2 separate regions of the Homo sapiens genome follow, and region 1 is linked to region 2. Evidence: fine-mapped expression QTL. Tissue or cell type: monocytes. Region 2 holds a variant in brackets; the other region holds the start of a gene. All regions are shown on one strand. Distances are between the middles of the regions.

Region 1 (5,222 bases), 44 kb after region 2:
GAATTGCACCAGCCTGGCAATCTACGTGGCCTTCACTTAAGAAAAGGTGCCTTTTTTTGTGTGAAAATGTATTCCCACATGGAAATTTACATTAAAAATACTTCTGCTGGATAGTTTAAAAACCATCAATAGCTGCCTAAAAATGGAAAGGCAGACAGGGACATACACATTCGATCAATAAGTGTTAATTAAGCACATCCTATATGCCTGACATGGGTATCTGAGCTACAACCTCTTCCCTCATGGACCATTTTAGTCTGTTGGGGCTGCTGTAACAAAACACCTTAGAGTGGGTAATTTACGATAAACAGAAACGTAGTGCTCACAGTTCTGGAGGATGGGAAGTCCAAGATCAAGGCTCCAGTAGACTCAGTGTCTGGTGACGGCCCATGATTCATAGACGTGTCCTTGGATGGTGGAAGGGAGGAATGTGGGTGCTCCCTGGAGCCTCTTTTGGGAGGGCAGTCATCCATCCATGAAGGCAGAGTGCCTCCCAGAGGCCCCACCTCCTAGTACTATTGCACAGGGGGTTAGGTTTCAACGTGAGTTTTGGGGGATGGTTTGGCTCTGTGTCCCCAACCAAATCTCACCTTGAATTGTAATAATCCCCACAGGTCAAGGGCAGGACCAGGTGGAGGTGATTGAATCATGGAGGTGGTTCTTGTGATAGTGAGTGCATTCTCACAAGAGCTAATGATTTTATAAGGGGCTTCCCCCTGTGATTGACACACATTTTCTCTCTCCTGCCACCCTGTGAAGAGGTGCCTGCTTGCCATGATTATGTTTCCTGAGGCCTCCCCAGCCATGTGGAACTGTGAGTTCATTAAACCGCTTTTCTTTATAAATTACCTAGTCTCAAGTATTTCTTCACAGTGACATGAGAACAGACTAATACAGGAAGGCATCAACATCGAGGCCACAGCTGTGATTGACTGTGTTGTACGTGGACTGACCGTGTTGTATGTGGTGATTTAATTTTCTCATCTGCCTTCTCAAAGATACCACCTTTGGACCAAAAATTCTACAATAATAAATTGTCCAAACATTAAGATTCACCTCGTTCTACTCATCTTCCTCATCTCTCATATGAATAATCGTTCTTCTGTCACCCTCTTCTGTTCTGAAAAACAAACCAACCAACATTGGGACACTTTTTCCATTGACTGGTTTACTTTCCTTCTGTATACCTGAGGAGAATCTTCCTTCCTTTGGGGTCTTTGTCGTGTCCTTCAGATGTTGGGGTGTCCTCTGTGGGGGTCCCCAGCTTAAATCAACTGACCCCACAACTTTGTGTGGAACCTGAAATGAGCAGCCTATGGAGAACCTGGTCATTGAATACTTAGATCTTGCCGCAGTCCCTATTTAAATACCTGTTCAATCAACTCTGGGACCTATGTTTTAGATTTCAACATCTCTGAATTGGCCTGTTCCCTACAGCCAATGTTCTAATGTCAGCCTGGACAAGGCCGAGTTCTTCCTGAAAGGGGTTGTGCTTTATGTTGCCCCCTGGGGGCACTGCCACTTTGCAATCCCTTTAAATACATTTTTTTGTGTGAGTTTTGGGAGCCCATGTGAATAGTGTAAATGTATTGCAAAGCTGGTTCCTGGCTGGCCTGTGGTTTAGATTATCTGAGCTTCCCCCTCTTGCCTCCAGGCTGAGCTGACCCACAGCTAATTTGGGTATATGCTCTTTCTTTCAGGTTCATCAATAATGGTGCGTCTTAGATTCACAGAGTAGAGTGTGGTCTAGTCCACTTTGTGGTGCTGTAACAGGATATCTGAGACTGGGTAATTTATAAAGAACAGAAATTTATTTCTTACAGTTCTGGAGGCTGGGACATCAAAGGTCCAGGGGCCCCCATCTGGCGAGGGCCTTCTTGCTGCGTCATCCCATGGTGGAAGGTGGATGCGCGTGAGAGAGAGAGAGAGAGAGAGAGAGAGAGAGAGAAAGGGGAGAGAGGAAGGGGGCCAAACTCATCCTTTTATTCCAAAATAACGAACCCACTCCTACAATAGTGGTATCAATTCATTCACGTGGGCTCTGACAATGAATGCGTCTTAAAGGTCCCACCTCTCAACACTGTTGCCTTGGGATTAAGTTTCCAACACGTGCACTATAGGGACACATTCAAACCACAGCATGCTGCATCCTCTGATGTCCACATTGTGGATGGAGGTGGCAGCTTATCACCTGGAGCTCCTGAAGAAATTAAAGAGGAGACACATGGTGACGCAGCCCACAGCCTGGCGTTTTTAGCATCTCAGAAGCACTGACAGGGACCCGCAAGCTTATGAGAAACTGTTCAACTCATTGGGCTTCCTCAGAGCTTGGGAGACCATTAATGTGGAAGACACTATCTGGACATGTTTCTCTTTTTTCCACCTGTCTAGATTTTCTTTCAGGATCGGGGAGACTTCTGGAGTAGAAAAGCCACTCCAGAACCCTTCCTCCTCCTCCCCCACACCCCGCCTCATGAGCGGCTGCCCTCCGCGTGGCATGGAGTCCCCGCGTCCACTCAGAACCCTTCCTCCTCCTCCCCCGCGCCCCGCCTCCCCCGCGCCCCGCCTCCCCCGCGCCCCGCCTCCCCCGCGCCCCGCCTCCCCCGCGCCCCGCCTCCCCCGCGCCCCGCCTCCCCCGCGCCCTGCGTCACGTGCCCCTGCCCTCCCCGACGCCCCGCCCCCCACGCCCCTCCTCCCCCACGGCCCGCCCCCCCACGCCCCTCCTCCCCCACGGCCCGCCCCCCCACGCCCCTCCTCCCCCGCGCCCCGCCTCCCCCGCGCCCCGCCTCCCCCACGCCCTGCGTCACGTGCCCCTGCCCTCCCCCACGCCCCGCCCCCCACGCCCCGCCCCCACGCCCCGCCTCCCCCACGCCCCGCCCCCCGCGCCCCGCCTCCTCCACGCCCCGCCTCCCCCACGCCCTGCGTCACGTGCCCCTGCCCTCCGCGCAGCATGGAGTCCCTGCGTCCCGGCTCCACGGTGCGGGAGTCCTCCGTGGTGGCTGAATTCGCCTTTCAGGCCCTATGTTCAGGATTTGTGATCTGGGTTTTAAAAACATTTTTTAGAAGTCATTGGTAATTAAAAACAATAAGTTTTTTATTGTGGTAAAATAGACATACAGTTTACCGCAGGAATCTTTTTTTAAGCGTACAGTTGGCTGACCCTGAGTGAATTCGCTGTTGATAATCTGCTTCTCCCTGAGCTGCTGTCGCCCACACTCGCCGCTGGCCGTGCTTGTTTTTCTCCTGGAACTGGGGCCGGTGTCCCTGTTGACCTTGTCCCGGGTAGCTGAGCCCAGGGGACTCTCCTTCCTAGGGTTACCGCTCAGTATCAGCACAGCCACAACGTCCAGCCAGGGAGGGCATCCGAGGCCCTCAGCACCCACCCCGGGGGTCCGGCCCGCGTCAGGCTGCGAGTTCCCGAGTCCCTGGACCCAGCTGTGCCTGCTGGGGTCAGCGCAGTCTGTGAGCCTCGACCCCCAGCTCCCAGCAAGGCCTCCCAGCAAGGCCTGTCGGAACCCAGCGGAGACCGGCGGCTGGGGCTTGTCCTCGAGCGGGGGCGCAGGACACGGGGCGCGGGGCTCCTGCCCTTGCAGCGTCCTGTCAGGATGGACGACCCAAGCCAGACGGCGCTCCCTCCCGCCACACCTGGCCGTACTGGCCTCCAGCCATGCCGGTGCTGCCGAGGCCCCCGTGTGGGACAGGCCCCCGCTCCCGCCCGTCCTCCTGGCTGCATCTGCACCCGCCCGTACCCGCACCGGGCCTCACTGGCCCCTTCTCAGACCGGCACAGCCAGGTAGGTCCTCCCTAAGCACCACAGGTCGGGGCGGCTGGGCGTTTTGTAAGGACAAACTGCGACCGTGAACCCCGGGACGGCTCAGCACCCAGGCAGCGCGGCCTCTGAACGCTGTCTGCGGACTCGTCTCTCCTCCCCACTGGCCCGGCCACACGTCCATCCAGCCCCGCTGTCTCCCTCTTTCTGTGTCTGTCTCTCCGCCCTCTTTGTGTCTTGGTGTCTCCTCTCTCTCTCCCTCTCCCTGTCTGTCTCTCAGCATCTCTCTCTGTCTCTGTCTCCTGTGTCTCACTGTGTCTTTCTCTGTGTCTCCATGTCTCTGTTTCTCTCTTGTTCTATTCTCAATTTTTTTGTTTGTTTTTTACCTGGACTTACTCCCTCCCCTCTGTTTCTCTTTCTCTGTCTCTCTCTTTCTCTTTGTCTCTGTCTCTCTCTTTCTCTCTGTCTCTGTCTCTCTCTTTCTCTCTGTCTCTGTCTCTCTCTTTCTCTCTGTCTCTGTCTCTCTCTTTCTCTCTGTCTCTGTCTCTCTTTCTTTTTGTCTCTCTGGCTCTGCCTCTCTCCCTCTCCCCTCGCCCCCGCTGAGCGCTGTCTGACGGGAACCCCCAGCAGTCTCCCTCGCTCTCCTGGCAGCCTGCAGACTCCTCTGGTCTCACTGACTGCAGAGTCACTGGCTGTTTCTGGTCTTTGCTGACGCTGACGTTTTTTAAGAGTCTATGGTTTCCTCCATCTGGACTTGCCTGACTCAGGATCGGGCTCTGCTTAGACAGTGTTTTGGCAGCCCCCTGCCTTCGGCTCAGGAGGAGGCTGGGTCCCCAGGTTTTGCCACGCTAAAGGCATGCTTTCCTGGCATAGTTAACAGGCCAGTTCTGAGGTGATCCTCTGAGTCTCGAGGGTGTCCAGTTTCTCAGTGCCCTTCCACCAAGGTGGGGTCTTCATGGCGGGCGCTTGCCCACATCAGTGGCTACCCCGTGGCTGTGGAGTGGGGTCCTTCTAAACGGGAGCTTAACCCCCAGCCCTGCTGAGATGGCTCCATGACAGTGATGGTGGGGCCGAGGTCTGCCGTCCACCAGCTGTCCTGGCTGAAGCTCTCATTCCTGCTTCCTCTTCCTCACAGCCTGGGCTGCGTGTTCCCAGACGGCAGGCCCATCTCCCCATCCAAGCGCAGCTCTGGACCCACACAGGCTGGTCTCCCAGCACCCACAAGGGCCTCCCTGCCCCACCAGGCCCCCGACACCCGCTCTCACCTTCGTCCTCCAGAGGTGGACGCCCCAAAGCTCCCCTTCCTGCTCAGGGGGAGGGGAGGTGTCACTGGGGGAGGCGATGGGGCTGCTGCAGGTTCTCTCTCCCTCACTCTCAGGCGGAATCACTTCTCCCACCTTCGCTCCCCACCGTGACCTCCTGCTGCTCTCGGTCCTCAGGGTCTCACCTCTGT
Region 2 (5,222 bases):
AGAAATTATTGTTTACCCACTGCAGAGAGTAGTGACCATCTGTTACATTTTGATTGTTCTGTCTTCTTTCAAAGTAGGGGAAAATGAATTTTCCCCTGTGTGGCATTCAGTGTATTGTTGTAGGTTCTATTCGAACAGAATATTTTATTTTCTACTTAGGTTTCCCTTTCAAATGTTTCAGGTGTACGAAGCCATCGACAGCAGAGATGGAGCATCTTGTGCAGAGTTGGTGTCTTTTAAACATCCTCATGTTGCAAACCCACGACTTCAAGTAGGTGAAAGAGCTGTGCACACAGGTGTCTGCAGACAATTACAGGGTAACCACTTTCCTAAGAGAAGCGTAGAGTTTGAGTAAGAAGAAAACTAATATTGTCACTCTTATTTGAAAATTTTAAAGTTTCTTTATGATTTATGTAATTTCAATCCATTTGTGGAGCACTGACTATGTACGCACACTGTGGTGATGTGGACCTCCTGCCCTTGTGTTTGATTCCTAGACAGCTCTCTGAGGTTTAGAGAAGTTAGATGGTGGAGAGGCGGTGGAGCTTAGATTCTGTCTAGGCCTGTGCGTCCCCAAAGCCCCATAGACGTCATGTACCACAGGTGTCTCCCATTTAAGTTGTTAGTCAGAAAGGCTGGCAAGCCAAGGCCCAGCCTGGGGTTGTACATGGAGTTTCCATGTCATCTGTGGCGTAGATGATGTTGAGGCAGTATTTTCTATAGAAAATCTTGTGGACATTTGGTAAAGCCCTGTTTCCTCATTGACACCCTTTATCATATTGGAGTGTGTTCCTACTGGAAGCAGCATTTTTCTTTTGGAAGAAAAATGGGCTTATCTATTGGTGATTATGTTTGGCGGTGTACAGACTTGCAACTCAGACCAGGTAAATCAGTCTCTGAAGTAGCAGCAGGCCTGTTTTTGTTTTTCTAATAAAGTTACCTAGGTGATTCTATGTGTAGACAGTGTTGAAAACCATTGCTCTAAGTAGGAGTTAGTGCTAGAGACTCGATGAGACTCAGGCTTGCCTTGGCCAGAACACCCCATGGCTGGTGCCCTGTGCTTTGTATTGTATGACATGAGAGGACACACACTGTCCTGTTTGCAATCTGAGACAGATCCCTTCATTGTAAAATTCCCCAGTAAACTTTCTTTCGGTGGTTTCATTCACCAGGGACTGTAGAATGGTGATTTTTCTGATACTGTCATTCTTCTCTCTCACCATATCAGCATGGGCTCATTGCTTTTGTAAACAAAACCAAACAAAACAAAAAAACGCAGTGTGCTTATAATCCATTGTGTGTTAGTCTGGGTTCTCCAGAGAAACAGAGCCAGTGGGATATATCAATATTTATAGAGATTTAGTATGAGGAACTGGGTCCTGTGATTGTAGAGGTCAAGAAATCCCACACAAGGAGTGAATTCTTTCTTCCTCGACCTCTTGTTCTATTCAAGCCCTCATCAGATTGGCCATTGCCCGTCCACACTGAGGAGGGCCATCTACTTTCCTGAGTCTACTAGTGCAACTGCCAGTCTCATCCAGAAACACCCTCACAGACACTCCCAGAAATAACATTGTCTGGGGACTCCACAGCTAGTCAAGTTGGCAAAATTAACCATCACCTGTTGAGATGTTCAGATTATCTAAAATTTGACTGTTAGGAGGAAAGGAAAACTTAGAAAGAAATGTCAGCTAGACTAGCCCAGGAGATGAGACTGGTGGTCTCAGCAGGAAGCCGAGAAGAACGAGTCCTAACATAGCACCATCTGTAACTCATTAGACCTCACTTACTAAACCTATGACAGTTACTTAACAAGTATTTCTTGACTGACTGGTCAAGAATACTAATATACTGAAATGTATATGAAAGTGCCTAGAATATTTTCTGACTTGCAGAAGGCGAGACCAAATTATATTCATGGGCTTCTTTTTCCCCTGAAATATTGATAAATATTTGTTGAAGTAATGAACCATTTATTTATTTATTTATTTATGAGACAGAGTCTCCCTCTGTCACCCAGGCTGTAGTGCAGTGGCACGATCTTGGCTTACTACAACCTCCCCCACCCATGTTCAAGCGATTCTCATGCCTCAGCCTCCTGAGTAGCTGGGATTACCAGCGTGTACCACCACATCCAGCTAATTTTTGTAATTTTTTTTGTAGAGACGGGCTTTCACCATGTTGGCCAGGCTGGTCTTGAACTTCTAGCCTCAAGTGATCTGCCCACCTCGCCCTCCCAAAGTGCTGGGATTACAGGCATGAGCCACTGTGCTCACGGCCTGAACCTTTTATTTAGAGTGGTAAATATAAAGTGTTACTGTGAACTGTAAAGCATAAATTCTCTTGAAACAGAGGTTTAAATCTCTTTCTATATGTTGCATTCTTTCTGTGCCTATTAATTTTACTTTTGCTATTTTTCTTTTTTAAAATCAGATGGCCTCTCCAGAGGAGAAGTGTCAACAAGTCTTGGAACCCCCTTATGATGAAATGTTTGCAGCTCATTTAAGGTAATCTGTTGGGGAGGAAGAAAAACACACACATCTGGAAATTGCTGAATTAACTGGGGATTTTATCTTGCATTATCTTGTGCTTGAAGCAGTGAATAACTGACTTTGAAAAAGTGGGAAAATGCATTTGTAACTTCAGTTTGGTAAAGCCTGTGGAAATTGTAAACATCAGTTATATAATACTATTTTTAACATCACACAGTATTTAGCAGAGTGCCTGCT[T/C]AGTGGTCTTTTTAGTAGAGTTTGGAGCCGAACTGTTCACTTACCCTTTTCGTGGAAATATGTCTGTTTTTGAAGCTCTTTACGTTACTGGGAAAGAAATTAGAGTTGAGCAAAGCAAACAATGCTACTTTTTATGTACACTTCATATCTACTGTTTTATCTCTAAAGGATCAGTTCAGGCAGAAGATTGTGTCCTTATAGCCATGTGAGATTTGATTACTGTCTTTCAGAGCAGCCTGGGCTACAGGACCAGTGTGGGGTCTGTGAGCAGGAATGTTCTGTGAACCCCACAGGGTCTTTGGAAGAGTTGGGGCACCACCGTGTTCCTTGTAGTACAAAGCACCTGTGATTTCCTAGCTCTGTGCAGTGTGCGATAGGTTCCAGATTTGGCGATGAACTAACACTGACATTACCCAGCTGGGAATCTAGTTTGAATGTCATTGTCAGCCCCTGCTAGAGTGGAAGGGTCATACTATGTTATCAACATGTGTTACTCATAAACCTGCTGGTGCTAGGTCCTTCTGGGACTTGAAAGAGTAGTCTCCAAGCTTACTGTGGGACTTCCTCTTATCCTCACCTGTTTGTGTTCAGCCATTTGTGTGTTTCTTCCTTCACTCCTTTCATCCCAGGACCACTGGGACCTGTGCAATGAAGTGAGCTGTGTGGGCTGCATAACTAGTGCTAGGTTTTTATTGTGTGACAGCATGTTTCTGTTTCTCCTCCAGGTGCACTTATGCAGTGGGGAATCATGACTTCATAGAGGCATACAAGTGCCAGACCGTGATAGTCCAATATCCTTTGTCGTTCATGGCAGCTGTCCCGCATAGAACACATGCAGTGGATTACTTGGGACTTGAGACCCGGAAACACTGGGCCAGTTGCTCATTTCTGCAGTTAGAAAGGAATGACAGTGTTTTGGAACAGAAGCTCGTTTCAGCTCTTTCACTTGGGTACTTAAATTTAGCATGGATCTGAAGACTCGTGCAGTACTTAGTAAGGAAGAACACTGGTTAGGAAGAAGGATCTTACTCTGCTGAGAAGAAGAATGCTTTGTTGCCTTTAGTAAGGTAGTAAGTATATTTACAGGGACTGGTTAAGTCCTGTTGGTGAAATACCAGAAATCCAGAATTCAGGCAGAGATGGACAAGAGTGGCCTCAGATGTACATCGGCATTGAATTGTGGCAGCTGAAGACCTTAAATCAAACCAATTCATACTTCAGTCATTTAAAGGGTATCTTTAGTTACGGCCTGAGTCAGTGAGTGTGCTAAGGATTTGTATGTATCTCTAGATTTTGTCTTTTCGTTTTAACCACCTTGTTTAAATATACACAGAAGAGAGTTGGGCTATTTGCTCACAGCCTCCTTAGAATTCAAGAATTCTAGAGTTGATAAAATCAGCCTTATGCTACAGATTCTAAAGCACTTAAATATAACTCATGATCATCTGGGCTCAGAGAAACCAAATAAAATGTCAGAAAGGGCTGATTTTAAAAAATCTTGTAAGTCTTTTTTATTTAGGAGACAGTGTGTATGAAATAAGTGTATTTAGTATACTTGAGCCTAATGAGATACAGATATTTGTAATGTGAGCTTATACCTTTTTTCCTTCAAGAACTTACTATTGTTGCAACATAAATCTGCTCAAGGGTGATCTACATTCCTTAAAATTTAGATTCTTATTCTTTACTTTTATCGTACGTAGCATTATTTGAACTTTGTATGCCATATCTTCCTTAATACAGTACATCATTCTTGCGAGCATTCCAGGCCCACAAAGAAGAAAACTGGTAAGTGTGAACAGAAACAGCTGAATTAGCAAATGGCAATTTTTTTAGCAGAATCTTTTTACAAATTTGCTTTAAATAAATGTGTATTGTATTTTCCATGTGGATATTTGGTAATCAGTGTGTTGACATATGGTAATATCTACACAGATGAGTGGAGTCACAAATCTAGTAAACTGAAATGGTAGATCAGCCACATTGTTTGCAGTGTGTCTATGTCAATATAGTATTATTTTTATTTCAGATGTCCATTTCCCTAGATATTTATTAAATACTGTTTTTTCCTTCAGTTGTCAATTTTGAACTTTTGGTTTTAAACCTTAGATAAAAGAGGTAGACCAACTACGGTTCATTTGGGGTGTTCTAATACATAATAATGGTGGTATTTTTAAATGCCTTGCCAAACTAAATTTTATGATTTATTAACAAACTATAGGTTAATACTGAAATTTGTTTATACTGAAATAACCAAAGGCCTTTTGCAAACAAACCCGCCCTTTTATCTTTTTTTTTTTTTGAGAAGGAGTCTTGCTCAGTCGCCGAGGCTGGAGTGCAGTGGCGCAGTCTTGGCTCACTGCAGCCTCTGCCTCCCGCCACCCTTTTATCTTTTAACGTGAAAACTTGCACATGAAAACAGTCCAGTTTTGCCAGTTGGCTGTAAAAGTTGTTTTGTGACATTTTGTGTATTACATATTCTGGTTCCTGTTA

Which allele goes with the higher level. Positions count from the first base shown, and alleles are read on the strand shown. Sizes are in standard deviations (SD) of each study's normalised expression.
With allele C in place of T in region 2, the expression in monocytes of the gene that starts at base 2,951 in region 1 is higher (large effect, 1.1 SD a copy in Quach 2016).

Evidence for each region. PIP is the estimated chance that this variant, and not a neighbour inherited with it, causes the effect.
Region 1: it holds the start of F10-AS2, and the variant in region 2 is fine-mapped to the expression of F10-AS2 in monocytes (Quach 2016, PIP 0.95). The same link has a PIP of 0.9 or more in monocytes after LPS, monocytes after Pam3CSK4 and monocytes after R848.

Annotation. Positions count from the first base shown.
Region 1 is chr13:113,151,715-113,156,936 of GRCh38, reverse strand. F10-AS2 (F10 antisense RNA 2) reads left to right here and starts at 2,951. Exons shown (of 3, transcript XM_011537532.4): 1 at 2,951-3,023; 2 at 3,167-3,793. The coding sequence starts at 2,951. It overlaps LOC124903216 (a long non-coding RNA gene), which reads right to left and starts at 2,437. Exons shown (of 4, transcript XR_007063880.1): 1 at 2,072-2,437; 2 at 1,822-1,880; 3 at 1,057-1,120; 4 at 327-407. RefSeq lists a silencer at 2,521-2,570.
Region 2 is chr13:113,195,476-113,200,697 of GRCh38, reverse strand. PCID2 (PCI domain containing 2) reads left to right here. Exons shown (of 14, transcript NM_001127202.4): 2 at 182-271; 3 at 2,434-2,507; 4 at 3,455-3,520; 5 at 4,476-4,517. Among named protein-coding and RNA genes, the nearest start is that of PCID2, 11 kb to the left of the region's middle. The variant T/C (reference allele first, on the strand shown) is at 2,730.